2 linked regions of the Homo sapiens genome follow. The protein of the gene in region 2 interacts with the protein of the main gene of each other region in a pairwise test. Each region holds a gene or a part of one and is shown on either strand. Other genes may lie near its edges. The genes, in order: FLNB and ITGB6.

Evidence for each region.
Region 1: the proteins of ITGB6 (region 2) and FLNB interact in a two-hybrid assay, tested with the Homo sapiens proteins (one study listed by BioGRID).

The regions. Positions count from the first base shown.
Region 1 is NC_000003.12:58,119,775-58,135,143, reverse strand, and holds part of FLNB (filamin-B), read right to left. Parts: intron 13,904-15,369; coding exon 13,641-13,903; intron 12,052-13,640; coding exon 11,454-12,051; intron 10,813-11,453; coding exon 10,639-10,812; intron 9,564-10,638; coding exon 9,401-9,563; intron 8,543-9,400; coding exon 8,382-8,542; intron 4,404-8,381; coding exon 4,236-4,403; intron 3,218-4,235; coding exon of another isoform or gene 3,125-3,217; intron 2,337-3,124; coding exon 2,213-2,336; intron 529-2,212; coding exon 372-528; intron 1-371. UniProt on the Homo sapiens protein: Connects cell membrane constituents to the actin cytoskeleton. May promote orthogonal branching of actin filaments and links actin filaments to membrane glycoproteins. Anchors various transmembrane proteins to the actin cytoskeleton.
Region 2 is NC_000002.12:160,094,099-160,109,467, forward strand, and holds the end of ITGB6 (integrin beta-6 isoform a precursor), read right to left. Parts: intron 13,748-15,369; coding exon 13,581-13,747; intron 7,737-13,580; coding exon 7,638-7,736; 3' UTR 5,573-7,637; downstream 1-5,572. UniProt on the Homo sapiens protein: Integrin alpha-V:beta-6 (ITGAV:ITGB6) is a receptor for fibronectin and cytotactin. It recognizes the sequence R-G-D in its ligands. Internalization of integrin alpha-V/beta-6 via clathrin-mediated endocytosis promotes carcinoma cell invasion.

The sequences.
Region 1 (15,369 bases), on a different chromosome or scaffold from region 2:
GTGTCTCATGTCTGCAATCCCAGCACTTTGGGAGGTTGAGGCAGGCAGACTGCTTGAACCCAAGAGAGTTCAAGACCAGATTGGGCAACATGGTGAAACCCCATCTTTAAAAAAAATAAAAATAAAAACATAGGAATAGATGTAGTAAAAAAACATGAAAATTCACCAAAAAGTGGTTCTTGGAGCTACACCCTCAAATCTCTCAGGTGAGCTGCTTCTGCTTCTGCACATTTACTGACTCTTTGGTGGGAAAATCTAACAAACAACTTGCATTGAGTCAGAAATCGGTTATTGAAACCCTTGTTCTTAAATCTGGCCCAGAAATTAAGTCTTAGGATTAAGGTTTGGCTCAGAAAATAACTCCAAGTTACCGTTATTTGAACAGCAAGCAGGCCTTCCCCGGCATCTCGGGCATCAATTGCAAAGTCCACAGGTAGACTGGCAGGCACACCATAGGAACTAAGGCCGGGGCCACTGGCAGTCACTTTGCTGGCATCATATGTGGGAAGGACCTTGACCTTGAAGGGACTTGATAGACACACACACACACACCCTAGTCAATAAAGATACATGTCAACCCAGCTGCATCTGACTTTTCTTACACATAAGAGTGGGATGGAAAAGGGGATTTCTACAGCAGATAAGACAGTGAGTTAGTCAAGGTGCCTAAGTCTAGCAGAAATTTACAACTATGAGGTAGTAACCATCATATGACAGACTGGTTTTGTCCTGAGTGTGTTCCAAGGCAGCGGTCCCCAACCTTTTTGGCACTAGGGACTGGTTTCGTAGAAGACCAGGGGGCCTGGTGGGGGAATGCTTTCAGGATAAAACTGTTCCACCTCAGATCATCAGGCACTAGTTAGATTCTCACAAGGAGTGTGCAATCTAGATCCTTCTCATGTGCAGTTCACAATAGGGTTCGCACTCCTATGAGAATCTAATGCAGCTGCTGATCTGACAGGAGGCAGGGCTCAGGCAGTAATGATGGCTCACCCACCACCGTGCGGCCCAATTCCTAACATGCCGTGCACCCACACCAGTCCACGCTCCAAGGGTTGGGGACCTCTGTTCCAAGGGATACAAGTAGTTTGGGGAGGAAGAGTTCACAAATTAGTTTGGGAAACACAGGGTTAAACACATTTACCCCACTTTTGTTATGCTAAGATCATGGTCACCAAATGGAAAGAGAATACTGGAACTTCAGTTTTAATATTTATATCTCATCTTATTCTATATTCTGTATCTATAATTATTCTATAGTATGCTTCATATGGTACATGGTATATTAGTAAAGCAATATACAAATGTAATTTATAAATTACATATTTCTACATAGAGCTAATATGCTTATCTCTATATAAAATATGTGTTAGGGGATATGGGTGAAAGTTTTTCATCTTAAGGGGCATGATTTTTTAAAAAAAGAAAAGAAAACCCTTAGAGATTGTTCCAAGAGGTGAAGAGCTTATGTAACATTTTTTTTTGTATTAATATCAACAAGGAACAAGGTTTCTATGTAAAACCTTTTGGAAATGCTTTTATCAAGCAAACCCTGAAGTAAAGACCTTTGTCCTGTCCCAATCAGAAAACTACTTGCAGGTTCACCAAAACACCAAAAGGAAGCCTCTAATAAACTAATAAATTATTTATTTCATCAATGATTGTCTACTACTATTGCTTTTTTTTTTTTTTTTTTTTTTTTTTTTCCAGAGATGTCAGGGGAGGGTCTATGTTGCCCAGGCTGGCCTCAAACTCTTGGGCTCAAGTGATCCTCTCATCTCAGTCTCCCAAGTAGCTGGGATTACAGGCGAATCCCACCACACGTGGTTAGGATTTCCAACTTCTTAATTTCAGCTCACCTTTAAACTAAAGATGTCTGAAAGGAACTGGGGGAGTGAGAGAGCGGGAGCCACAAATATCAAGGCTAGTGTGTGGTGACAAGTTGCAGGTTCTATGTAATACTTGCTGCCTCTATGAATGGGTAGACGGACTGATGGAGGAATGGATGGGTGGATGGATGGAATGATGAAAGAATGGATGGATGGATGGACTGATGGAGGAATGGATGGGTGGATGGATGGACTGATGGAGGAATGGATGAGTGGATGGATGGAATGATGGAGGAACGGATGGGTGGATGGACTGATGGAGGAATGGATGGGTGGACAGATAGACTGATGGAGGAATGGATGGGCAGATGGATGGAGCTTACCTGCGAGGAATCTCTTCATCAGCATATTTAACTGAGACCATGTAAGGTCCCTCCTGAGATGGGGTGTAGGTTACTGTGTGTGTGCCATCTCCATTGTCCACCACGTTCACTGGCTCCACCAAGCCTGAGGACAGAGATGAGAGGTTTAAGGAGCTGCCTGGCCTCACCTTTACTCCACCCTTGGCTGAGTCTGAAATAGGACCACATCCATCCCCAAGAGCTATTGGTTTCCACTGATGAGTAACAAAAAGGCCAGCAACCATAATCACAGGCCTGAAAAAAATCACAGGATCCCCAATTCATGGTTGCAGAAATGACCCCGAGAGACACCTTTAGCTTTTTGTTGGCTAAAATACACTCAGTCTGCCCTAGAGTATAATTAAGGAGACTGCCTGTGCTTGCTGCTGGAGGGTGTATGTGGATGATGTGTGTTGAAGACACAATATAACCTTTCAAGCTGGTTAGGCACGCTTAGGATGTGGCAATTTTACTCTACAGCTGAGACACTGCCAAAGAGTCCAGAATTGTGAAGAGCAAAAATTAACCAATGGGCTGGCTAGTCAAGACTTGTGGCCACCTTTGAGCAAAGAACACTGTGGTACCAGCATGCTGGGGCATAGGTGCAGGGCAGGTGAGGGTGCCAATCTCATGGGGCAAGGGGACCCTCAAGGTGAAGCCTGTGGAGATGTTAGAGATTATGCTAAAACATAATCAAGGCACGCGTTGGGTTGCAGAGTCCAGATCCCAGCTTCCAACGTGACAGTCAAGGATGGGTCAACTCCAGGGTAGGTTAATCAAAGGATGGCATGCTCATTAAGCAAAGCAGATGAGGCAGGTGTAAGCAATTTTAGAAGTGAGGCCAGCAAGAAGCATTTGGGTTACATAATTCAGCAGCCATGGGAAAATGCAAACCTGTCTTATTAAAGTCACCCTTCGGGTCACCTTTAAAGAACTCTGAAAGGGCTTTCAAGGGGCTGCGCCATGACTGGGAATCCGTGTCGTCAGCTAAAATCAAAAGGCTGTTACTTGAGAGTCCTTCATAATAGAGGCAGATATCCAAGTAAAGCTTCTCTTTCTTCTTTTTCTCCCTCTCTCATTCACACATACACAGGGACACATACATGCACACAAACACATGCAGGTCCTGAAGCTCAGTAACTTCACAGAATCTGATCCCAGACCCATGACCTAATTTCCCCCAAACCATTTCTGCCCTGAGCTTCAAAAGATAAAACCTCCTGCTGAACCCCATGAAGGAGAAGGTTCCTCTTCAAAGAGGGAAAACCCCATTTGCCACTTCTGTGAATCCAAGAACATATCATTGGCGAGGAAAATCCAGATTACGTAAGAAATTAGGCACACTGTCCTCTATGTGGGAGAAAGGCACATTTTAAGTGCTGGAGGAGGAAACATGGTCACTTATCAAAAAAGGCAAGTTCCAATGCACTTCAGGGCTTTGTCCCTATATGGCCCGCTAGCCTTACCAAACCCAAGTTCCAAGCTGCCAACAAGGCAGGCCAAATTGCCAACAAAGCCCATTCCCCAAGACACACTCTCTCTCTGGGGAACTAAGACAATGACAAAGCCACGTATCACGTGCATCATGTGCCTGGCATTCCCAGAGGTTCTGGTATGTACCACATGGACACCAAGATATCTCAATGAGTTATCACCTCCAAACCCCACCATCTGCCACATCCAGAGCAACCCACCCCCTCACAAATGCTGAAACACATAATGAAACAGTCGCCACCATATTACATATGACAGCCCAAATACTGCTGCTTCCTCTAAGAAATTGATAGCCATATTATTAAATGGGGGGACAGATCACTGGAGAAATAACAAGCCTGCTTACTTGTAAGCAGGAATTTCTACTGTTTAACTAGAAATGAAACAATAATTTTTTTTAATTTAATTTTAAGCTCATGAGCAAACTCAAAAGCAAAGCATCTGCTCTGGGTTACAGCTGCCCCTGCCTGGGGCAGATGAATGTCTGCAGGAAGGCAGGGTGCACACTTACCTCGTGGGCCCAGAACCCTCACTTCCAGCGGAGCCAGGCCAGCCTTGCTGCTGTCCACCGTGAAGGACTGCAGGACACGGGCTCGGACGCCTGAGCCCAGCCCGGGGCCGGCAATCTTGACCTTGCTGGGGTCCACAACATCCTTCACAGGAACCCTGAAGGGGCTGCCTGGAAGAGAGGTTGTGGGATTCTGAGCACAAGCTGGGAATTGGAGACCACCTTGTGCACACCCAGAATAGCACTGCTGCTCCCCCGGGACCTCGGCCATGCAGGCCTCGGTCAGCTCCCCCTGCCTCACTGTGTGCACTGCTCATGTGCCTACTCATTGTTGTCAACCATTCTCACAGAACACCTACTACGTGCAGATGTTGTGCCACGTGCTGGATCCTGAGCGGTTAACACCCCCCAGGAACCCACAACTGCAGGAGAAGGATGAGGCAAGCAAGTCACTCTAACATCCTACATAACATATTTGGGGTGTGGAAGGTGGAGCACTCAGGAGGCAATTAACCTGGTCTGCGGGAGACCAGAGAAAGCTTTCCAGTAACATCTCAGTTGCGGCACAAGAGGGAGCAGACAGAGAGGTGCTTCAAGTAGAGAGGCCTCAGCACATGCAGGAGCCTAGAGGCGAGGGAGGAGACAGGCTGCTGGAGCAACTGAAGGAGGAAGCCAAGTGGTGGAACAACAGAACGGAGAGAGATGGGCAGGCCCTGCAGCCCACATCCAGCCCTGTCCCCCACACATGGCTCCTGTGTGTCCCCCAGACTCCTCTCCCTCCAATGCAGCTGGCACCTTCTGACCACACTCAGCCTTCTCGGTCACTCGGCCACCTGGTGAAGCCTTGCCGTCTTCCTGAGTGTAAGCTGAGCTCCTGCTACATGGCTGACCCCCCGGGGGACCCTGAGGGCCTCTGACTCCTTGAGGGTGTCAGTTTTAAAGATGAAGCACAGAGGAGTCGAGGAGAGGAGATAGTGATTTGCTAGAGAAGTGCTAAACAGAGAAACAAGGGCTAGGCCAAGGACACTCATGGACTCCACTGTGGAGGGGGACCTCCCCATCCAGCGAACGGCAGCATGCCTCAGGCTACCACGCCCATCACCAAGGGGCTACGTGCACCTCTGCCTCGCATGGGAGTCCTGGTGCTCCCCATGGTATCTGGCAAAGTTAATGACTGCCGTGAAAGCTGAGGGATCTCTGCTTTGCATCCCAGAGAATTTATACTTTGTAGAATTAGAGATGGTAGACAGCCAAGACACACAAAGAATTGAGTCCCTGGCTTTCTAACAACAGCTGGGTTTCAACGGCATCCAGGTCTTTAGCTACGTGAAATAAATGGCTGGCCCTGGCAAACAAGCACAGGCCTCCACACTGGGGTGAGAGGAACAAAAGGGGGCTTTACTTTAGAGAGTGACAGTTGAGGATTTCAATGTCAACAGCTGATGGCAAGGGACTACCTCTGAGGCCAATCTTTAAGTCAGAGCCTCCACTAGAAGTTGTCTGAGCTCAGCATGAGAGTAGCCAAAAACCAACAAACCCGGGTAAGATAAACTGTCCAAGATGGCAGACCCCAAGCATTATCCGCCACTCCCCTGTTCCATGCCCAGACACATGTCACCATTCCCTCATGCCAGATCTTCTTCCTCATGCACTCTGAACCCCAGTCAATCCAGTGGTCTAGGGAGCCGCCACCAACCAACCACAGCTGGCCTACCACAGGAAATCAACATGCCATTACGGGTAAGACAGGACACGTTGTTAAAAATAACTCCACTCCGGGTTTTTAACCAGGCCAGGAAAAACTAGGCTAATATTTAAGCACCCAGAATTACCATGAAAGCAAATTAGAAGGTGGCAGGTAGCCGACTGTTTCCCGGCAGTACCCCCATAGGTTGCCTTAGCTAAGAAGCCTGATGCTTAGAAAACCAACCAACACTTCACTAAATATCTCTGCCTGGGAAAGTTCTGGGGTTCTGGAAAAGCCGGCATTTGGCTCTCTGGGAGGCAACAGAGAGCCTGAAACATAAAAAGGCACCATCCACACCTGATGGGAAAACCACAAATGAGTGTCTTTCTGTTGTTATGCTCAAAGACGACCATTTGCTTTAAGCTCACAGGTCGGCCACAGGGGACAAACTCTGACCCCTTTCTGTAAGGGGGATTCGGAAGCTGGTGGCACTCACCAGCCTTTCCCCATAGTCAAAAAGTTTCATTGCCACAGGAGATGTTCATCTCCACTGTTGCCTGCCAGGTCGGAGCCACATCACCCCTCCTGGGAGCAGCCTTCTACCCGTTTCCTGTGCCCAACTCTCTCCTAACGCAAGTGTTACAAAACTCCAAAACAAGCCCGTAGCTCTGAATTCTGTCACCGAGCCCCATTCTCATTCTTCATAGCAGTCATCACAAGTTTTAGTTGTAAAAGCCCTAGACAGTAAGCTCCCTGAGGGCAGGAACTTTGTCTTGCCCACAGCTGAAGTCCCCTAGACTAGTGATTATAGGAATTTTTTAAATCTATATTGAATGAGCCGCAAGCACAAGTTTGAGGAGAAACATGTTGTTTTAAATGACTTGAGGCTTAAATGAGTATCTGAGTAGAATCAGTCTGAGTTGAATGTCAATACTTTCTGATCAGTGTGAGAGAGAGTGAGTGTGAGTGTGTGTGCACATTTCCATGTGGTAAGGGGGAAGCAGGAATGGAATCAGGAAAGCGTGTGGTCAGTGGACACTCCAGCTGCCTGAGAGTTAACCCAGAACCCAGCAGTGGGCCCCTCAACCTGCCCTTCCCCTCTCAGCGTGACCCAGAGAAAGAAGAACAAGACCCCGCTGAGGCTCTTTCTGCTCCTGGGGTCCTGGGGTGGGGCTTTGCCCTCTTCACACCACACCTAAGACAAGGCATAAGTGGCCCAGAACAGCCCCAGCCCTCGGTCTTCTGTCCACACCACACACTTGCCTGCCCTTTTAGAAATGGGGGCGGGGGAGGTGGTCTCAGAATTCACCACTATAGAATTCATCCATGTAACCACAAACGACTTGTACCCCAAAGCTATTGAAATAAATAAATAAAATGTGTGGGGGTGACAATCATTTGAGTAGATAACTAGAACCTATGGAGAGTCCTCCCCCCAAAACAAATGGAGGAGGGTCTTTCACTACTTAAGTCATATATTTATTTATTGTTTGAATCTTTACAGCAGTGGTTCAGGCTGAAGTGATTTTGTCCCTTAAGACATCTGGCAAGATATGGAGACATTTTTGGTTGCCACAAATAAGAATGGGGAAGGAGAAGTCTGCTATGGGCATCTAGCAGGTACAGGGCAGGGATGCTGACAAAAGTCTACAATGAACAGGACAGCCCCACACCACAAAGAATCATCTAGCCCAAAGTGTCATAGTGCCGGAGTTGAGAAACCGTGTTTCACAGTGATTACACATGACATCACTAAATACAAAAGAAAGAATTTGAATCTGCATATCTTGATCAGCTACTAGTATTGTCAGTGAAAAAAAAGAAACCAAGACACATGAATAAGGAGCCAAGCACAAAATAAGGTAGAAATTTTCTTTCTTTTTCTTTTTTTTTTTTTTTGAGACAGGGTCTTCCTCTGTCACCCAAGCTGGAGCGCAGTGGCGCAATCTCAGCTCACTCAACCTCCCAGGCTCCCATCTCAGACATCGTCCCATCACAGCCCCCACCCCACATAGCTAGGATTACAGGCACGCACCATCACACTCAGCTAAGTTTTGTATTTCTTGTAAAGATGGGGATTCCCCATGTTGCCTGGGCTGGTCTCAAACTCCTGACCTGAAGCAATCTGCATGCCTTGGCCTCCCAAAGTTTGGGGATTACAGGTGTGAGCCACTGTGATTTTCAACTTTGTAAAGAACCAGCTTTCCCCTGAATCAAGAACTAGGTCCTCCAACACACGCACAACTGTTTCCAGTCAAAATTCTAAGCCGATGCTTTTTGCCATGTTACCGGTTCTACTGGGAGTTGAGATAATCTTGGAGATGTAGCCCTAAGAAAAACTCTCCTTTTGCAGCTATTACAAATATCAGATTGTTTTCCCCACTCAGAGAGATAACCAAAATCAAACCCATTTTCCTGCAAAATCAATTATTCTCTGGGGTCCTCTCTGAGGAATAGCTCACCGGGGATGTGGGCTCCTCCATATGTGATATTAACATCGTAATCCCCCGGTGCGAAAGGAATGTACTCAGCACTGCAGCTGCCATCCTTGTTGTCTCTGCAATTTATCTTCGACTCTGATGGTCCCTCAACAGTTATGCCAAGCCCACCAATTCCTGCGCCTCTGGAAAGAGTGGAAAAGAAAGTGAAATGTGCACCATTTATTTATGCTGGTCTGCTTATTGCCAAAATTCATGCAAATTCCCTTTATAAACTATTCCACGTAGCCACCCCAACTCAATTACTACACCTCTCACATAGGGAATTTCACATTAGTATAATGTAAGTAAAGACACTCTGACCCCTCATTTTCAATGCTTATGCTTCATTTATTTTTCTTTTTCCTGAGACAGAGTCTCACTCCATTGCCCAGGCTGGAGTGCAGTGGCGCGGTCTCGGCTCACTGCAACCTATGTCTCTTGGGTTCAAGCAATTCACATGCCTCAGCCTCCCAAGTAGTAGCTGGGATTACAGGCGTGTACTACCAAGCCCAGCTAATTTTTATATTTCTTGTAGGGATGGGGTTTTGCCATGTTGGCCAGGCTGGTCTCAAACTCCTGGCCTCAAGCAATTGTCCCGTCTCGGCCACCTGAAGTGCTGAGATTACAGGTGTGAGCCGCCACACCCAGCCTATTTTTCTTATCTAATTGCACTGGCTAGGACTGCAAGTACAACGCAGGCATATGCCTTGCAACCAACTTTAATAAAAATACTTACAAGGTTGGCTACAAATTTTTACATTATCAAGTTATAGAGCTTGATTGACTCCTGGTTTGCTAAATAGTTTCATGACCATTATCAAGTGCTTTGGTATGTTTTTTAGGTATGCTTGGTCTTTCTATGTAACATAAGTCTCTACAGAAGGAAATACATGTTATAAAAATAAAAATTCATCTTATCAAAAGTTAGGAAACCATGACACATAGGTAGAATCTAGCCACAAAAGTGAGACTCAAGACACCAAATGTAGGGCCTTGCCTACCTGGTAACCACGGTGAAGACATTGGGCTTGTTGGTAAAGGCCTCTTTCAATCCAGGTCCTTGGGCTTGCACCCTAGATGGCTGGCAGCCTTCAGTGACAGCCACCTTGAAGGGACTGTTTGGGATAGGCACGTCATCATATGTCACCTCCACTACATGGAGACCTGCTCAAAACAACAAACAGAAACGCATATTTGCATACAAATCCCCTATTTGTGAAAAATGATTCTCTACTTCAGAGTTTCATCTAGCATCGAAGTCTGCATGCTATACTATGTTATTTGGAAAAGGGGGTTAAAAACACAGTAATGTGGCTGGGGGCAGTGGCTTACACCTATAATCCCAGCACTTTGGGAGGCCGAGGTGGGTAGATCACTTGAGTCCAGGAGTTCAAGACCAGCCTGGGCAACATGGCGAGACCCCATCTCTACAAAAAATACAAAAATTAGCTGAGTGTGGTGGTGCACACCTGCAGTTCCAGCTACTCAGGGGGCTGAGGCAGGAGGATCATTTGAGCCCAGGAGGTTGAGCCTGCAGTGAGCCGTGATCACACCACTGCACTCCAGCCTGGGCAACAGAGTGACATCCTGTTTCAAAACAAAACAAAACAATCCCACAGTAATGTAGGTATGATCTGACTTTTAAATAATACAAACCGTCTATCTGCAGTCACATAAGCCACTCCACCCCAACCAAGCAAATATTCAAGTCAGTCATCCTAAACAGACTACTCTCATTCGGGAAAACACCATCCAGCCATTAACCAAAAGAAAAAGCGAAACCCGTGAAACAGAAGAAACAGGCATCCACAAGAAGACTGAAAATATCTATATCAGAATATCGCAGGCTTCCGATCTCCAGGTAGTGGAGATATACATGGCACTTTTTTTTCTTTATGGTTTTCTATTTATTGAAATTTTTTATAATTCCTAATACTCAAGAAGAAAGAAATTCATACGCAAAGAAAAATGGCACAAATGAGCAACATCATGACATTACCCCATAACTTGCTGAGGTGAGACTGAGGCTAAACCCAGCCCACCTATTACACAAGGCCAGCAAGCCAGGCACTGAGTGGGCAGGTGACTGCAGCGGACGCTGACTTCCACTCTGTCACTCTGCACGTGGCCCTGCTGAGACAGGCCTAGCACATGGGGCAGGCATCAGTACCAGCCACCAGGAGGCAATGACCAAGGGCAGCTCTGAACGAGGGTCCAGTCCGAGGACAGGGCGGCTCACCTTTCTCAAAGGGTGTGTATTCCACCTGGTAGGTCCCATCCGCATTGTCTGTGACAAAGCACTCGGTGGAGGCCCCTGAGGGGTTGGCAATGTGGGCCTTGATGTGGTCACCCCCAACCTGGGTCAGCGGCCGAGAGTCAACTGTAAAGTCGGTGGTAGCTTCCCGGAACACATCTGCAGAGCAAGCACATAGCTAACACTGCCACCAGTACCCCAGACCCAAAAGCAAACCCCAGAACCAAGGTTCTTGGCACTTCAGGACACATGAAGTCCAATTTCAGTAACTGGAAAACTGGTTTTTCTAACTCTCAAATCAAGAATATTAACCCCCTCCATCCCAAAGAAGGCCTTTCTAGAGTAGCCACGGCTAAGTGACAACACGACTGCTCACACCGGGCTCGAGGACAGGTTAAAGGTTGAAGACTAACCTGCTGTGTGGCATGCAGGTGTTAGACAACACTACATTTTAAACTTTTTTCCAATTAAATGCCAACATGTTGTATGTTGAGTTTCCAGAGAAAAATCAAGATTTCTGCCTTTGCCAAAAAACTAGAGATTCTGCTGACAATGCTAGGTCCTGTTCCCCATGGAGAAACAGAAAACAGGGGTTGAGTAGCACGGTCCCCAGAAATGCAATGTGCTTAACCTTCACCAGGGCCCCCCAACTACTCCCCGAGGCAGAGGGAACAGGTGAGCACCGCCTTATATGTCACCTGGCTCCTGCAGGTGGCTGAGTTTGCAGCTCCAAGTTTCAGGTAGCCCTTAAGTCCCAGCTTGTCTTTTTTTTTTTTTTTTTTTTTTTAAATGAAACCCACCTTTCCCTTCTATTCCTGGTCCAAAGACTTTGATCCTGCTGGTGTCCACGGCGGGCTCCACCTTGACCCGGGCGGGGAAGTGTGGCACGAGTTCGCCACCATACTTCATGGTCAACGTGTACATGCCGGCCGTCAGGGGCACGTAGGTCACCGCGTAGGTGCCATCTTTGTTGTTCTGAATACTGACTTCGGCTTTTGTTCCCGAGTCCGAGACAGCTTCCAGGCCCAGGGCCCCCGGTCCCGCTTCCGAGCAGTCGACGCTAAGGAGGCCAGCTTCACCCACCTTCCCGTGCTCGAGACCTGGCCCCGATGCCACGACTTTAGAGGGGTCAAAGGGCATTTCAATGTCAGCTTTGAAGGGAGACCCAGGTATGTGGACTTCTTCAAAGAGGATGTTGACGAAGTACTCCCCGGGTTTTGTGGGAAGGTAAGAGACGGAGCAGGTCCCATCACCATTGTCGGAGCACTCGATTTTGGCCTCGCACGGACCTTCCACCGTTAAGCCCAGACCTCCAGTACCAGCTCCTTTGGTATCGATGGTGAACTCGGCAGGCTTGCCCACGAGACCACCTTCGAGGCCGGGACCGTGGGCCTTCACCTATTTGAGCAAAGAATAAAGTCAAACTGCACTGGGATCGCTGCTCAGCCAGCACTGCTTTCAACACCCATGCATATAATCAGCATGGAAGTGCATCTGAGCCAGGCAGCCCTTCTCTTGGGGCTTTATGTGTCACACGTGCACACGAGTTAAAGCTACAACAGTCAATGCAGCAAATGCCTCAGAACTCAATCACCAGCGAAAACCCACAGGAGAGAGGTGTGACCCCCATGGAGCAGCCCCTCCAAGACTCTCCTCTCTCCTACCCAACCTGACCCTTCTAAATCACAGGCCTGGACTTGGAAACCTAATGTCCATTCCAACAAAGATACACGAGATCCCAGGTTGAGGGCTCATGGAAGGGCTCTTGTGGAGCTAGCTGTGGCTTGGGCTGTTGCAATTTGCTCAACAAATTCTGCATAATAATAAAACTAAACTGTTTCTAAAAAAGAGTGAGGAAGGAGGCTTTCACCTCTAATTCAACAAATAAGACACCTTCATAGGATTCACACCATTGAGACCACTGGAAATCTTCCAAAACCCCTTGAGTCAGGGTTACTATGAAGAAATGACGATGAACTTTTTTTTTTTTTTTTGGAGGGGACGGAATCTCACTCTGTTGCCCAGGCTGGAGTGCAGTGGCACAATCTCAGCTCACTGCAACCTCTGCCTCCCAGGTTCAAGCGATTATCCCACCTCAGCCTCCCGAGTAGCTGGGATTACAGGCATGCGTCACCACACCCAGCTAATCTTTGTATTTTTAGTAGAGATGGGGTTTCACCATGTTGGCCAGGTTGGTCTCAAACTCCTGACCTCAAGTTATCCATCCACCTTGGCCTCCCAAAGTGCAGTGATTACAGGCGTGAGCCGCTGCGCCCAGCCAAGAATAATGTTTTTTTTTGTGGTTTTTTTTTTTTTTTTTTTGAGACGGAGTCTTGCTCTGTCGCCCAGGCTGGAGTGCAGTGGTGTGATCTCAGCTCACTGCAAGCTCCGCCTCCCAGGTTCACACCATTCTCCTGCCTCAGCCTCCCGAGTAGCTGGGACTACAGGTGCCCGCCACCATGCCCAGCTAATTTTTTGTATTTTTAGTGGAGACGGGGTTTCACCGTGGTAGCCAGGATGGTCTTGATCTCCTGACCTCATGATCCGCCCGCCTCGGCCTCCCAAAGTGCTGGGATTACAGGCATGAGCCACCGCGCCTGGCCAGAATAATGTATTTTTATATTACATGATTCTAGCTTCTGGAGGGTGAGCTCCGTCTGTGAGCTGGGTGCTGGGCAGAGGCCTCCACGTTTGCTAACTCACCTACCCCTTACAGGCTGGCTTTGTAGTGAGGACTGTGATTATGCTAACAAGCGAAGAAAGAAGACTCTGGGACAGGGAGCCCCTCACCAAAGTCTTGTAGTCAGAGAGCAAGAGGAGGAGCAGGGTTGTGACCCACCTACCCAGGGGACCTTTCACAGTGAATTGTGCTAACTTTCATCACAAAACGATTTTCAGAAGGTCTTTGCCAGGAAGAACCAGAGAAGGACTATGGTGTCATGTTTGACAGCAATGAGACAAGTTCTGGGACAAAAGCAAAGGCTGACCTTGCTGGGATCTGGTGGCAGCGAGGCCTCCACTGTGTAGGGGCTCCCGGGCACAGGGTGTCCATCGTAGGTCACGTCTACAGCATACAGCCCCTCCTCCCGAGGGATGAACTTGGCCGTGCTGTTCTCCCGGCCTGTCACAGGTGTCACTAGGCATGGCACGACCTTCCGAGAGGGGCTGAGGATTGTCACGTCCAGCTTCCCCTGGCCTCCTGCCCCCCTGGTATCAACGGTGAACTCCTGATCCTTCCCAACTTCCACCCCTGGAAAAGAAACACAAGCTGAGGTGAAGAGCTGACCCTTTTCAGCAGCAGGAACAATCCAGAGCACAGAAGCAATGGTTCTTTGGACACGGGGACTTATCTCAGCCTCCACTGTAAGCAACAGCTGCTGCAGAGGACAAGCAGCAAAGCTGAGTAAGTATCATCAGCATCTCAGCCTCAGTAACAACAAGTGTCGGCACAATAATCAATTAGTGATGACAGCAATAACGGCTATCATTTACTGAATGCATTTTATATGCCAAGCACAAATAGGTTATTGTCTTAATTTTCACCACAATCCTATGGGGTATTTATTATTAACCAATGGCTTTCACAGATGGGGAAACTGATGCTCAGAGAGGTTAAGTAACTTGTCCAGGGTGACATATGCAGCAGCCTGCCAAGCTGGGACTCAAAGTGAAATTTACCTGACCCCACAATCTTTGCTGACCAGAAAGTTGTAATCTGACACTGTCGTCTCTTATTTACTTACTTTTGGTGTTAACTTGATATCCAAACACCCTCATAAGTCAATGTTTTATTTACTAATTCTTGGCAGCCAACTCCATCTTATAGGCACCCCTCCCCCTCAAGAAAGCAGAAGTCACAGAGCTGCCAAATGCGAGCCGATTGAAGCAAGTGCTGAGAACTGACTGTACCGTGATGGTTTCCAAAAGGTCTCTGCAAAGCAGGGCTGCAGGAAGCCCAAGTGTTAGATTAGACAAGAACAGGGAAAGGACTTTACCCAAAACAAAAGCACTGGGAACACAGGGCCCCTGCCACAACCCAGAGAACCTTGACTCTGAAGGAACATAGGGCCTGGCAAGATGGACACTGCCGAACCACAGGCAAGGAGGTCCCGGATCGCTACTTCCCACCGGAAAAGAGGCTTTCCTAATTGGCACCCTGCTTTTCCTGTTCTGGAGTCAAAGCTCTCAGTGTCTTGGGGAAAGGAGTGACAAGGGGACACATGACAGGGTTGGGCAGTGGACGTTTACACACTCAGAGCTGGCTGCTCCAGCCACAAAAGCCAACAGTGAGCTCTCACTTTGGATCTCTGCAACTGGGAGCTGGCCTTGCTTGCAACTTGTGCACTTGGGTCACGAGTGAAGGAAGATGCTCACTAATGGCACTGCTAGTGGTACTCTGGAGAAACCCTCACAGGTGAATACAGGAGGCCCCGTCCTGGGGGTATGCACTCAGCCCTGCCTCAGTAAGCCTGAAACCAGGTGAATGTGAGCCCTGAGGTACATCCAGTCTGGAGCCACTCAGCAGTAAACACAGACGGAAAAGATGTAGGAGTGAATGATTCCCGAGATGCACTGTTGGAAGGCAGGCCGAAGAAGTAGGTTTATACAGCAGGGCAACTTTAATGCAAAATAAATACAGCCAAATGTGTTCCACAGGCACATCTATATGTATAGATGCAGAGAGAAGATCTGGAAGAACAGAAACTGAATTGAAAA
Region 2 (15,369 bases):
TGGTTGTTTTAAAAGTGTGTGACACCTCCCCCTCCCCTGCCATGTAAGATGTCTGCTTTGCTTTCTGCCATGAGTTAAGAGCTCCCTCAGGCCTCCCCAGAAGCAGAGGTGCCCATGCTTCCTGTACAGGCTGCGTAACTGTGAGGCAATTTAACTTCTTTTCTTTATAAATTACCCAGTCTCAGGTATTTCTTTACAGAAATGTGAGAAAGAACTGATACATGAACCCAGAAACAAATCCATACATCTACAGTGAAATCATTTTCAACAAAGCTGCCAAGAACATTGTCGACAAAAGAACATTCTCTTCAAAAATAAATGGTGCTGGGAAAATTGGACATCCAAATGCAGAAGAATGAAACTAGACCCCTATCTCTTGCCATGTACAAAAATCAAGTCAAAATGGATTTAAAGACTTACATCTAAGACCTCAGACTATGAAAATACCACAAGAAAACGTTGGGGAAACTCTCCAAGACATTTGAGTGGGGAAAGATTTCTTGAATAATACTCCACAAACATGGGCACCTAAAGCAAAAATGGACAAATGGGGAGCACATCAAGTTAAAAGGCACAGTGGCTCACGCCTGTAATCCCAGTACTTTGGGAGGCCGAGGTGGGCAGATCACCTGAGGTCAGGAGTTTAAGACCAACCTGGCCAACATGGTGAAACCCCGTCTCTACTAAAATACAAAAATTAACCGGGCATGGTAGCATGCCCCTGTAATCACAGCTACTTAGGAGGCTGAGGCAGGAGAATTGTTTGAACCTGGGAGGCAGAGGTTGCAGTGAGCCGAGTTTGTGCCACTGCACTCCAGCCTGGGCTACAGAGCAAGACTCTCTGTCAAAAAAAAAAAAAAAAAAAAGCTTCTGCACAACAAAGGAAACAATCAACAAAGTGAAGAGACAAGCTACAATATGGAAGAAAATGCAAACTCTCCATCTGACAAGGGATTCATAACCTGATTATATAAGGAGCTCAAACAACTCAATGGGAAAAAAACCAATAATCTGATTTTAGATTGGGCAAAAGATCTGAATAAACATTTCTCAAAAGAAGACATGCAAATGGCAAACAGGTATATGAAAATGTGCTCAACATCACTGATCATCAGAGAAATGCAGATCAAAACTACAATGAGATATCATTTCACCCCAGTTAAAATGGCTTTTATCTAAAAGACAGGCAACACATGCTGGCAAGGATGTGGAGAAAAGGGAACCCTCATACACTATTGGTGGGAATGTAAATTAGTACAACCACTATGGAGAACAGTTTGAAGGTTCCTCAAAAAACTAAAAGTAGAACTACATACGATCTAGCAATCCCACTCTTAGGTATATACCCAAAAGAAAGGAAATGAGTATATCAAAGAGATATTTGCACTCCCATGTTTATTGTAGCATTGTTCACAATAGCCAAGATTCGGAAGCAACCTGTGTCCATCAACAGATGAATGGCTAAGGAAGATGTGGTACATACACATAATGGAGTACTATATTCAGCCATAAAAAGAATGAGATCCTGTCATTTGTAACAACATGGATGAAACTGAAGGTCATTATGTTAAATAACCCAGGCACAGAAACACAAACTTCACATGTTCTCATTTATTTATGGGAGCTAAAAAGTAAAACAAATGAATTCACAGAGATAGAGTAAAAGGATGGTTACCAGAGGCTGGGAAGGGTAGTAGGGGGGCAGGGAGAGGAAGGAGTGACGGTTAATGGGTACAAAAAATATAGTCAGATAGAATGAATAAGATATAGTATTTGATAGCACCACAGGGTGACTACAGTGAACAATAATTTATTGCACATTTCAAAATAACTAAAAGAGTATAATTGGATTGTTTGTAACACAAAGAAAGGCTAAATGCTTGAGGTGATGGGTACCCCATTTACCCTGATATGATTATTACTCACTGTATGCCTGTATCAAAATATCTCCTGTGCACCCTAAATATATACACCTACTATGTACCCACAAAAACTTAAAATTATAAAAATAAAGTAAAATAAAATAAAATGCTCAGTAAACTTCATATAAACTGAAGTTGAGTTCACTTCAAGCTGGACTCTTCCCTATTGCAATAGCGTATTACTGATTAAAGTCTGTTGTTTCCACCTTAACTAGTGTCTGGCTTTGTTTATCTTTGACACTTCGAAGTCTGTTAAGCTGTATGACCTGGGGAATTTACTTAACATCTCTGTGCCTCAGTTTCCTCACTTGTAAAATAGGAGATAAAAATAATACCCCCCCCATAGGGTTGTTGTGAGCTCTGAATGAGTTAACATGTATAATGTATTTAGAACAGTAGGTGTTACCTTAAGTCAAATTAGGTTTAGCTTAAATCTGCCTCTTGGTAAATTTGGCCTAAAGGTTTCTCCATATATAATGATGTAACCTAACTGGGTGTGGAAACAGACTGTAACCTACTTTTGTAATGAGTAACCAAGTCTCAGCCCATCACAGAAGCCATACTTCAACCACGTGTAGGTGGCCAACTGATCAAATCGTGTTCAAATAGGGCAAATGCAGAACTGTAACCAATCTGTTTCTGCATGTCAATTCTGTTTTCTGTACCTTGCTTTCCCTTTTCTGTCCGTAAATCCTCTCCGACCACACAGCACTGCCTGAGTCACTCTGAACCTACTCTGGTTGAGGAACTGCCCAATTTGTGAATTGCTCAATTAAACTCTGTTAAAATTAATTCATCTAATGTTTTTCTTTTAACCCTAATTTTTTTGAGCTTTTGATTGATTTTATTTTTGTTTTTTCTTTTTTATTATTATTATTATACCCCAAGTTCTAGAGTACATGTGCACAACATTCAGTTAACCCTAATTTTTATTAACAATGCAAGCTCTTTAATGCTAGTAAGATATAGCTATTGAAATAAGAAATATATATGTATGTATTTACATATACACATACACACACATCTATATTATGCATAGCAAAGTCAACTGGATTAAAAAAATAAACTTTTCATTGGGTCAGTTATTGACAAACAACAGAGTTCCTTGATACGGAGCTTCGGATATTGACCTAGAACAGGATTGATTAATATGCAAGACCATAAATGTAAATACATTTTAGGCCAAAAAAACAAATACTATTTGAGCAGTTCTTTCATAAACTACATACCTGGAAATTGCAAAGGTCAGATTAAAATTTCAAACTGAACTAGATCCTCCATGGGATTTGTGAAGTCTTGCCAAGTCAATGACACCAAAGAGTGGGGGGTGGGGTAATGGTGGTCAAATCTGTGTCTTTGACTGTCAGGCCTCTCCCAGGACCTAGCTCCAGGAGAGCTCATGGGATGCAAAACTTCTGGGGTGCCATGTTGCTCCCTTGCTGGTTGTGTAACCAAATGAAAAGACAGAAGATCAAGTTTTCCACCCTTTGCCCTGTCTAGAGCAATTCACTTTTGGATTCACTTTCCCAGAAGGCGGAAATTGCAGTGAGCTGAGATCATGCCACTGCACTCCATTCTGGGTGACAGAGTGAGACTCTGTCTCAAAAAAATAAACAAATAAAAATAAAAGAAATTACAACTCTTTCTAAGGGTGCACTCTCACAGGGCATTGTGTAGCTTTTTGTCCTGCTTTATTTTCTGCATAGTTCTTAGGACGGTTAGACAGTCTTAGTCCAGTCTTCTTATATAATAAGAACCCGAGCAAGGTTATGTGCTAATGTTTTATTGAGGGGTGCTAGCCCAGTGAAAAAGGGCAGGGAGGCAGCTAATGAGGGAACGCAGGTACAAGGTGAGGCATTTGGAAGCTGGCCACTGCTTCCCCAGAAGACATCGCTGGTGGCTCATCTCCTGTTCATCTGCTGGTTCCTTCTTATCTCTGTCTCTTATGGATCTACATTCATTCTTCAGAGTGTTGACTCCCCTGAACCTCCCTGTTGTCTTATGTGGTCCCTTGGGGCAGCAGCTAGGGAAGCCATTCTGGACTTGGGCACAGGAATTGCAGCAGCTCCTTAACCTGTTAGGAGTTAGGAAGAAGCTGGGGTTTTACTACCAAGGAGACTGTGCAGGTTGGTGCTGGGGTAACTCCTGGCATAGGCCTGGAAGGCAGGTGGGACCAAGTGGATCTGGGGTCTGCACAAACTGGGTCCAGGACCCTGATAATGTATATTTACTTGTTTATTATTTTCTCTCTCATTTGGAAGCATAGAGATTACTTGTTTTGCTCATTGTTCACTGTATCCACAGTCATAAGAACAGTGTCTGGCATATACCAGGCATTCAATAAATATTTGTTGAATGAATTTATTGAGTTGCTACTGTGTCAGGAATTGTTATAGCTGCTAGAAGACACAAGAATTCCACCTCCCAGATGGAAAAATTAAGACGAGAAGGGACTTTCTTGGTGCTATTCAAAATGGGAGCTGTTTCTCTATTTTCAGACATTTGGCCTTTAGTTTACAAGAGACAGTGTGTTTCAGAATATAAGTACTCTTGATTTGACTTTGCCTGTCTTCTTGTAAGAAATGGGCCTAAGAGAAAGATTAAATTGACTCCTTTTTCCAGCATTTGGTCTCTTTGTGCTTCATTTTCCTGATTTAGAAGATAAGCATGGCACCATGACACCGAACAAATGGATGTGCAGAAGAATAGACTCCCTGAGCGCGTGAGTGTGCTCAGGCTGCTGAGCAGAGCACCACAGACTAGGGGGCTTCCACAACAGGAATTTATTTTCCCTCAGTTCTGGGGGCCAGAAGTCCAGGGTGCAGGTGGCAACTGGGTTGGTTTCTTATGAGGCCTCTCTCCGTGGCTTGTAGTTGGCCACCCTCTCCCTGTATCTTCACATGGTTTTCCTTATGTCTGTGTCCTAATCTCCTCTTCTTATAAGGACACTAGTCATAGTGGACCAGGGCTCAACTCCATCGCCTTATTTTAATTATCTCTCTTTTTTTTTTTTTTTTTTTTTTTTGAGATGGAGTCTCACTCTGTCACCCAGGCTGGAGTGCAATGGCGTGGTCTCAGCCAACTGCAACCTCTGCTTCCTGGGTTCAAGTGATTCTCCTGCCTCAGCCTCCCAAGTAGCTGGGACTATAGGCGCCTGCCACCATACCTGTCTAATTTTTGTATTTTTAGTAGAGACGGGGTTTCACTATGTTGGCCATGCTGGTCTCGAACTCCTGACCTTGTGATCTGCCTGCATCAGCCTCCCAAAGTGTTGGGATTACAGGCATGAGCCATCGTGCCCGGCCTTTAATTATCTCTTTAAAGGCTCTATTTCTAAGCACAGTTATAGTCTCAGCTACTGGGGGTTAAGACTTCAATACATGAATTTTGGGGGGACAGGGGCTATTGGGGGTGGAAGGTGATACATTTCAGTTTATAGCACTAACTCTAAAGAACTTGACTTTACAAAATGGTGATGTCCAGGCCCGCTCCCTGCTGTCTCTTGCCTTCTGTGGCTGCCTCCTTTTGCTCTTCTCCTTGGCCCCAGACCAAGACCATCAAGGCAGTCAGAACAGGTCACAGAGGAATCCAGAAATCCAAGAAGAGGGTTTTGTGCCAAGCAAATAAAAGAAACTATCATCCATCTAAGGTTCATTGTTTAAATTACCATGTTTATTTATATCAACACAAAATACAATAATAAACACGACAAAACCATTTTATCTTCATGTAACATAACTCTTCAGTGAACAGAAGTACTACTGTTAATGTTTTGGCCTTTCCAAGGTCCTGCCTGGGGTCAAAACAGTATTCAGAGAAAGAGCAGATTCTTCTCTACCTTCCCTAAAACACACACAAAGGTAACTTCTATTTTCTAAAATCCCATTCCAATAATAATTAAAAAAACAACAGTAAGTCCACGTAGAGGAGAGGATTGCTGTTGTGTTATCAGCATTGCAACCTGTATATTGCTGTAGATTTCCCCCAGGTTCTGCGCATCAGTCAGGAACATAAAGGGTATATCAGCCCTTCGGATTTTCAAGGTGATTTTTCAGTAATTCTTTCACCTAGCCCTGTACTCTGTAAAGGTCTGATTTACCTGAGTTATCTAGAAACCAGCAAAAAAAGAGTCTCCAAGTGATCAAAGGTATATGGATCTATCTTGTAGAATTGAAGAAACTTATAGATTTTGCTGTGACAATTCAATGGACAACCACGAAGCCTCCACTACATAATGAACTATTCACCTAGTAAAAGCTTCACATTACAATTTAATCAAAGGTAATAAACATTGCACAAAAGTACAATATCTCATCTATATGCCAGCAGTTTAAATGCTATTTGTTCAGTCTCGAACATTTTCAAACAAATGACAGTTATCACTTAACTAACACAATCTTTCTATTATTTCACTGACAAAAGAGGCAGTTTCCTGCAGTGGAAAGAGGAGATGGCTTGGAGTTAGAAGAGCTAGATTCTGAACCCAGCTCTACTCATTCTGAGCCTTAGTTTCCTTATGAGGATCAAGTGAGACGAAAGTGCTTTGTAAAGGAGTAATAACCACAAGAAATAATATTCTAGAGTCCATCTCTTCCATCAACTGATGGATCCCTAATTTGCACATGTATTTTGCAAGTAAAATCTTACCTCTTAAAGTAAATATATGATGCATATTCACCACATGCAGCTGAAATGTGCAAGTTGGGTTACATAGATGGGAAAAGAGTATGTATTAAAAAGCCTTTAAGACTTGTATACTCTTGATGTGCTTGATTTAGAGCCATTTAAAATTTTATTGTGTTTAACACATGTTCCTTTTATATTATTGGATCGCTCTTTGAATAAACTAAGCATTTAAAGTAATTTTTTTTTAAAAAGAAACTTTGGTATGACAATTACAGGGTTTAAAAGACTGTGCAACTGAGTGAAATGGATTGAGAAATATGGGAGAAGTAACAGTTTGAAAACTCAGAGTCAAAAAGGAAACAGTGTAGAATATCGTTTTTCAGGTAATTTAAAAATAAGCTATATGATAGGGTTGTTATCTTTTTATTTTTATAGGTAACTTCTTAATTTATAAATTACTTATTCCTTATTTGTAAAACAAATAAAATATTTGTGTACTTAACGTTTAGGTGTGTATAAATTCACAAAAATTATTAACACTTAACTTTCAACCTTATATTTGAGATATCTTCAGAAGAATTGCAACCTTTTAGCTGAAATAAACTCAGAATCTCATTTCTCAGAGATTTAAAAAAAATTCTCCTTTAAGAGAGGGCATATTTCCTACAAGTTTAGAATTAATTGGCAAGTATAGACACACAATGTGAGTATATGGGCTTTGTGACTTTGCCGAGACAAAAAACTCAGGTAGCTGCATTCCTGAAACAAATGAGACTCTAATTTCAAACATTTTTCAAATGCAAATCAGGCCCCCATGAATCATTTGATGATTTTTTGAAGCATTAATGCAACAGAGTTAGTATTCCTCAAATGATCCCCAAAGTCATCTCTTTGCTAAGGATATTTCTCTTCTTGATTATTTTGAAACTGCCAACAGTCTGTCACCTTCATGTAGAGGATGACTTATCTGCAGATGTCCTATTATTATCTTAAACCAACCTCATTTTGAAGCAACAAAGAGAAAAAAATTAAATAGTGCATTAACATTTCATATCAGTGAAACAGACTTTTTTCATGCATAAAGTAGTTCTAGCAATCTGTGGAAAGGTCTACCTTTTGTTTTTCCCTGTGTTTATAAGTTACATTTTTAAAAGTACTTGTGGATCCTCTGTAGAGTGGATTGGTTCCCTGGAAAAAAAAAAAAGATTCAAGTGAAAGTATGTATATTTTGTTTTTATACTGTTTTAATACGTAGTGCAAATTGGAAGAGGAGAGTCAAGCTCAGTCTTGGAAACCATTAGAACAATTTTGATTAATTTGGCATTTCATATGTTTAGTGTTTTGCAATTTATACATTTTCATTTTGTTAAATATACAGAACAAGTCCCATATGTATATTCTAAAAATCTTACCTCTTTTGGTAATGCACAAATTTACGGATAGAAAACAAGGCTTCAGCTGTTGTGCTCACTGCTGTTTTCCCAGCACTGAGTCCCTGGCCCAAAGCAGGTACTCAGTATGTATGGAATGAGTGGCATGAACAGTGACAGATGAACCAAAAGTGAAATCAAAGCCAAAAAAGTAAAAAACAGGAAAAGTGAAACCAGTAGGAACATACAAAAATGAACGACACAGTATCTGCCTTTAACAAACGTGTTACTCATGAGAGGCATCAAAGAAGGGCACAAATAATCATGCTAAGATGAAATCAAAACTCAGAAGTGGGAGAAAGTAGTTGCTTGGGAGGAGTGAGGAACCATCCTCTGGACAGCTAACACTTGCCCTGGGTAGCCAAAGAACCAGCTGTCTTTTGCTTACTATGTACAACACTGTGTAAGACAACCACAAGAGACTGGTATGGAGGACCCTGGGGTCATGAAAGAGTTGCAGTCCAAAGGCAGGCCAGGAAAAATGGCTTTGCCTTGGGGGCAGTGGGAAGGTTGGGTGTGGGACTCTTGGGTAGCTCAGCTGTGCTGTTTGGGTTATAGATGTGCCTCCAGGTGCCAATAGCAGTGGTGCTGTAGCCAAAAGGACCAGAAGGTCCAGAAGGATCAAGCCTCTCTAGTTGTTCCAGGCCGGAGGAAGGTGTCTGGGTAAGGTACAGTTTCTTCTCTCCCACTTTCCAAGGCTGATCACACAGGCTATGGCAACAGTCTGGGTCCAAACCCAGCTCCACCACATGACCGTACTGAAGACACTCTGAGCCTTGGTGTCCCTATCTGTTCCTACCTCGTCCAGGTAAAGTATTTTAGCACTGTGTGTAGCACATAGCAAATGCTCCATAAATGCTGCCTCTTCTCATTAGTTCCTATTTATAGCTTTTCTTCACATTTGGAATTTCCTTTTCTTTTAGGTTTTAGAGAGGATTATTAAGATATTTTCCCCCAGGGCTTTGGTACACTTAACATTTCTAAGCCCATTACTGAGTATGTATGGAATCCAGGTACCGCCTCTGACCTTCTAAGTTAAAATCTTATACTTTGATCACCTCATTCCATGAATTATAGCTATGGTAGAAATTTCTAGGGGTGGATTTGAAAAAAAACCTTAATTGTCTTTGCTTGCTCAGTATATTTCTTTCAGCTCTTAAAAGAATTGAATAAAATCGGAAACACTCCCCGGTCTTTCCCACTCACTGGCCTCAGTGCCCTCATTGTGAGTGGGAATCACACCTGCACCCATTTCTATGTTGTCCAGAGCCAGTGGCCTGACCTCTGACTAAGTGACATGCTACTTTTGTTATGTGCCTTTAAAGAGATATGCTATTTCTATAATAAAGCCAAACAGAAAAATGTTCCTTGGCTGGTGGTGGATGATGGGTGAAAGCTAAGTTGGTATATTGCTTCTATTCCTGAGAGCAGCCTGGTTAATTCTGAGGGACCTCCAGATCTTATCTAGTCTTGCTGCTCTAAGAATTTGAGATTTTGAAGGCAAAGGGCAGACTGATGTGAATTTAGATGTAGATGGAGTCTCATTTGCAAACAAAAATCATGCATGGAATTCTATTAAATTTGAGACTAGAATCTAGTTGGTTACAGGAGAATGAGAGACTCCATTGAAGAAACAAGATGGAAAAAAGTAAGAGGTTCAGGCCAGCAATGACAGGGTAAGCCTGTCCTGGAGGAATTTCCCACTTCCTCCAGGAAGCTCCCACCTTTGTGAACAGAAAAGACACTTGGAAAGAGGACACAGGCTGTGAGCAGGGCCAGCTTAGAGCTCCGTAGGACCAGATACTTGTTTGTAGGTGCACCCTATATCATGTCAAACATACTACAATACACCCATATCCCACACTTAATATAACTGATATGCATTATAGAGGAGGTGACTTGAATTGCAGTTGACAAGATAACACAATGTTATTTAGTAGATATTTAGTTGAATGTTTAATTTTGATGGCAGAGTTTTCATTCCGTATTTTAAAGCAACTTCATTCATTCAGGTTTGCAATATTTTGGGAGTCCCTTGCAATACTGGTTTAGGGCCAAGACATTGCTTATAGGGAGTGATGGGTAAAGCAGACTTCACTAGAGTAAGAGGGTAAGGTGGAAGTGTAAAAGTGGACGAAGAGCAAGTACATATTGCTGTTGTGTGTAATAGGGTATTTCCTGGCCTCAGCTGAAGATCAGAGGTCAGGATAATGCACTCACATTGGGTTTTGTTCCAGGAGGAGGTGTGGAAATGTCCACACTGCCTCCTCTAGTGCTCTGCTGATTGTAACCTCTCTACACAGACTTTCCAGCTGAAATGCAGGCTTGAGTCCTACTCTATTTCGGGTGAGTGTGCAATCCACTGCTCAGAAAAGGTCAGTTTTCCCCTAACCATTTGGGGTTACCAGGCTGATTCCCCCAGGTGTCTGGGAGTGCTAATTTAGGCTGTGGATTCTGCAAATGCAATGACACATTTTTCAAGATTGAAAAAGTGGTAATAGGAAAACTCTGTCATGACCCACAGCTTCCTTAATGATCGCCCAACTGCCAAACACAGACCTGATTTGCTTAGCACAGTACAAAATCAATTCATGACTGCAAGAAATGTCAGGCTGAACATTTTTTTGCCTCAAGTTAATGACTTGTCATCCTAGAAAAAAAATTCTAATCAAAGATGAATTTAAATATGTTTCATTTGTGTTTTCATAAAGAATATGTGGGGGTGGGCATTATTTTTTAAAGCATAATAAAAAAGATAACCTTTCTTTACAGCTGCTCTGAAATGTTTTAGGAGGTAGGAGTGAAGACCTTTCTGTCTTAAGCCCTGTCACTTTATGAGTCCAGTGCAGTCCTATGGCCAGGAGGCCTGACTGTCCCTATTGTCTCTGGAGGGCACTGGGTTTCAAAGACCAGTCAAATTCACTTCTTCAAGAAGAAATAGGTTTTAGGGAAAAAACTCAGTTAAATTGAAGACCCCTAAATGTGTGCAGTGAGCGACATTTTTTTCCAGTAGGATGTTAGTGAAATTTAAACTGAATTATTTGAGTTAAACCTTTTTTGCATCCAAGTGAATAATTACTACCCAGTCATTATCTAGTCAGGAACATCAAACATTTGTTATTCAAAGAAACTCAATTTAATAAGGGAATAATATTTTCCATTTATGCTTTTTTTTCTGTTTAATGCATGTTCGGGTCGCATGTTAGATGAAGAAACAGCAAAAATTCAGCATTTGAATTTCAGTCATGTTCTACATCCTGAGGGAGAACAATTCATGTTTTTGGGGAAATTAACTGTTAATTAAAATGTTATTTTAAAGATATTAATCACTTGTCAGTATTTATGCCTCTGTATGAGAACATTGAAATGTGCTGGTTAGTAGATACACATCACATAATTGCCCAAGTGCGTGTTTGTGGAACACCTGCTTATTATTTCCAGGAGGGTCAACCAAAGGCTGTGCTTAGAAGAACAATGAACAATTAGGCTTCAGCTTAACCATGCACCAAAAGTTAGGGAAGTCCCTTAACTTCTCTGAGCCTTAGTTTAGCTCTTCAAAATGGAAATACCAGGATTATATCATGGGGCTTGCTGCTATTGTCCTTTGTGGCAACTTAACCATATTCTTTTACCTGGTTGCCCTTCTAACCATGGCAAGGCATTTGTTGGAGAGTTGATGAAAGTCAAAAATAACATCTGTGGCCAGGGGTCAGGTGAAGTGAACTGTCCTACAACTTTGGGCTCATTAGTACTGTGTTCTAAGTCACCAAGCTAACCTGTTTACCTTTTACATTGTTAGGGATGAGTAAATTATATCTTCTCCTGAGGAATTTTGCTTAATTATGGAAAATACACACATTCGCAAAAAGAGGAAAGCTATATAACCAACCTCCAAAGACCCATCGCTCAGATTCCACAGTTATCACAGTTCTGCCACACCTGCTTCAACTATCCCTCCATCCCACTCTCTTGGCTGAATTATTTCAAAGTGAACCCCAGCTTTCATTTCCTTTCACTCCTTCAGTATGCATCTCTAAAAAATATGGATATTTTCTAGCAATGTCACCATGCCATTATCATACCTAATCAAATTAACCATACTTATTTGCTATCATTCTAATACCCAGCATGTATTAATCTTTTTTCAGTCTTTTTATGTATTTATTTATTATTTATTTTGGAGACTGGGGCTCACTCTGTCACCTAGGCTGGAATGCAATGGCATGATCATGGCTCACTGCAGCCTTGACCTCCTGGCTCAAGTGATCCTCCTGCCTTAGCCTCCCAAGTAGCTGGGACTACAGGTGTGAACCACCATGCCTGGCTAATTTTTGTATTTCTTTTTGTAGGGATGGGTTTTGCCATGTTGCCCAACTCGAACTCCTGAGCTCAAGTGATCCAATCCTCCTGTCTTGGCCTCCCAAAGTTCTAAGATTACGGTGTGAGCCACCATGCCCAGCCTTTTTCCAGTTGTTTTAAAAATGTATTTTTACAGGTGGACTGTTCAAATCACGATCCAAACAAAATCCATACATTGCATTTGGCTGTTGTATCTAAATGCATTTTTAATGGGAAGATAAAGTAGATAAAAATTTTCAGTGTTCATTGTCCTGTACCATGTATTATCATTAATTTAGAATAACCGCATACAACAGAAACATCCCTTATCAAGATAAATTTATCAAAAATGGAAAATTCCATTTGCTTTAGGAGTTGAAGGCATTGCTATAAAAATTGTTAACATCAAATTATTTGGGCGGACAAATCCAAAGGAGCATTGCGTCTACCTGTATTTTCTCCAGTGATATCATTGTTGTTAGAATCAGCAATGTAAGATAATTGCTGTTAGATACCTGGACACACCATTAGAGATAGAGAGATGAAATTAAAACTATGGAATTGTTTCTATGGGTCTCTAGAAATGTAATTATCTCTCCTGTGGAAAAGAAACACAGAAAACTATAGTCCTGCCTTCTGATTGCCTCTTGTGAAGAGAAGGCAGTTAAATTATTTCTGTTGAGTTTATGTATTTAAAGGTTAATACTTTTGGGGTTTTTTTCAGGTCTCTGTTTAAAATTTATGTTATTCAGAAAAAATAACTGCATGGCATTTTAAAAATCATCTCAATTTTGCTTTGTAACCTATTATATCAGAAACAAGTATTTCCAAAGAAATTGGCATGAATTATCGTACTATTTATGAACACTATTCCATTCATTATAACATAACCAATTTATGGAAATGTTTAGATATAGCACCCGTGCTTTATCAAATGGGGCCTGAGGGATACTCCTAGTGGTGAGGAAGCGCTGGGTAAAAATATACTTCCCCAATGTCCCTAAGCAGCTGTCTCAGGAGCCTCATGAGACCCTTCATCGTGGTGGAAATCCCCACCGCACTAAGACAAATATAAGCTATGAGGGTCATCTGGACCTTTGCCCCTGAAGCAGAACAGAAATCAAAGCTGTTGGAGTCATGGCGAGAGTGGGAGAGAAAAAATGTGACATTTGAACTCCCAGAGCAGAAGAAAGCTGAGCCCCTCAATCTCTTCCACCAGCCTCTTTCTCCCCTAGACAAGGAGTAGCCCTAAGTTTCCACATACCGTTTGCCACTTGGCTTTTGATCGTTCTGCTTCAAATTTGGCAACTTCTTTACGATCATGAAATGACACCAGTAGCTTCCAGATGCACAGTAGGACAACCCCGATGAGAAGAATAGCCAGGGAAACCCCTAACATGATCATGGGAATGTTTGGAGGCTTCGGACAATCTGCAGAAATAAAGAAAATTATAAGAAGGTGGTAAAATCAACATTTTGACATCGGAAAGGCATTTCTTGTTGGATTTTCATCTACATTTTCTGCAGCAGAGGATAAATATTGACACCATTTTCGCCTTGCTTAAATTTTAAAAATGAGTTACTTGTTGAAGAATAGCCCTGCATTCCTCAAAGTAGAACAAAAGATAAAGGAAGAATTTAGATATTTGAAGTAAATGGATATAGACTTGATGGTTGACTCTAAAAGAGAATCCAAAAGAGTGATAATTAATGCACATGGAATATTTAAAGGATTAAGAAAAAGACTAGTTTAATCACTAAACATGGTCTCTTCTGAGTTCACGATAAAGCAGAAATGGAGTGTGTGTGTGTGTGTGTGTGTGTGTGTGTGTGTGTGTGTGCTGCATGTCATCAGTTTTTCATGGACCTTCTTGAATCATGGGGAGTCTAGAAGACTATATTAAAAGTTATATAAAAACCTATCCCTTGGAAAAAATTACTATTTCCTTCTTTCTTTATAGACAGAAGACAATGATGGGTTTCAGTTCTGTTTTGTTGAACCCTAATGCAGTAGTCTGGTTTTGGGGAAGTTCCTAGACTAGATTCAGGAGAGGTAGATTCAATTCCCATCTGATGTACAGTAGCTGTGTGAATGTGATCCAGTCCCTTGACCTCTCTGAGCCCCAGGCCCTTCCTCTGTAAAACAAAGTTCAGTGTTCCCTTACCTTTTCTGATGATACCAATAAGCTGAACTGTTCTTGCTTACTAACACAGCTTCCTGGACCCCTTCCCCAATATTCTGATTCAGTGGGTCTTGGATAAGCCACCGATTCTGTGTTATTAAATATTCTAAATTATTCTTATCCTCAAGCAAGTCTGGGAAATTAGATGTTCTGTAGGGTACTTTCAACTTGAATATTCTATGAAATGTTATTTTGACTGTATTGAAGATATTAATGTAATTTTGCAATTATACAGTACGTTTCCTAATTCACAGCAGAATGACTAATAGTCCTTGCAATATGCCTAGGAGATGATACATTTCTTAATGAAACATTATAATTATGTTCTCCTCTTACTTTCATGGAAAAAAAATCCCACATAAAATTATCATTAGATATCTGCATCTCTCTGCAAGAAATGAGGCAAAATCCATGGGATCTGGGGAGGAAATGAATGATGTTTAGTTTATCCTAAGTCTTACTGCTTTTAGATATTTAATAAGGAGAGTTATACACATATGACTAGTCATGCTGTCTTTAAGGTAAGGATCTGGAGTTGATGTGAATCTGAGTGGGGCTAATTACCCACTAACAGCATGATGCCTGGCCTCACACACTTTTGTTCTTTGGCCAAGAAACCATGTAAAGAGATTATGCAGAAATAAGTAAAGGAGCTAATGACATAGCTATTACTGTATGAAGATCTAAAGACTATATTCTCGCATAGCAAATGAACCATAGCTGCCTCTAATAGGTGAGCACATTCCTGCAAATAAAGCGGCAGGCCTGTGTCATGAGAATATATACTGGCTACATCTTTGGCTAAGAAATGCCTGGGGTGGGGCATAGTATGTTCCTGTTCAAAGCAAGATGAAGCTTGCTACAATCCTG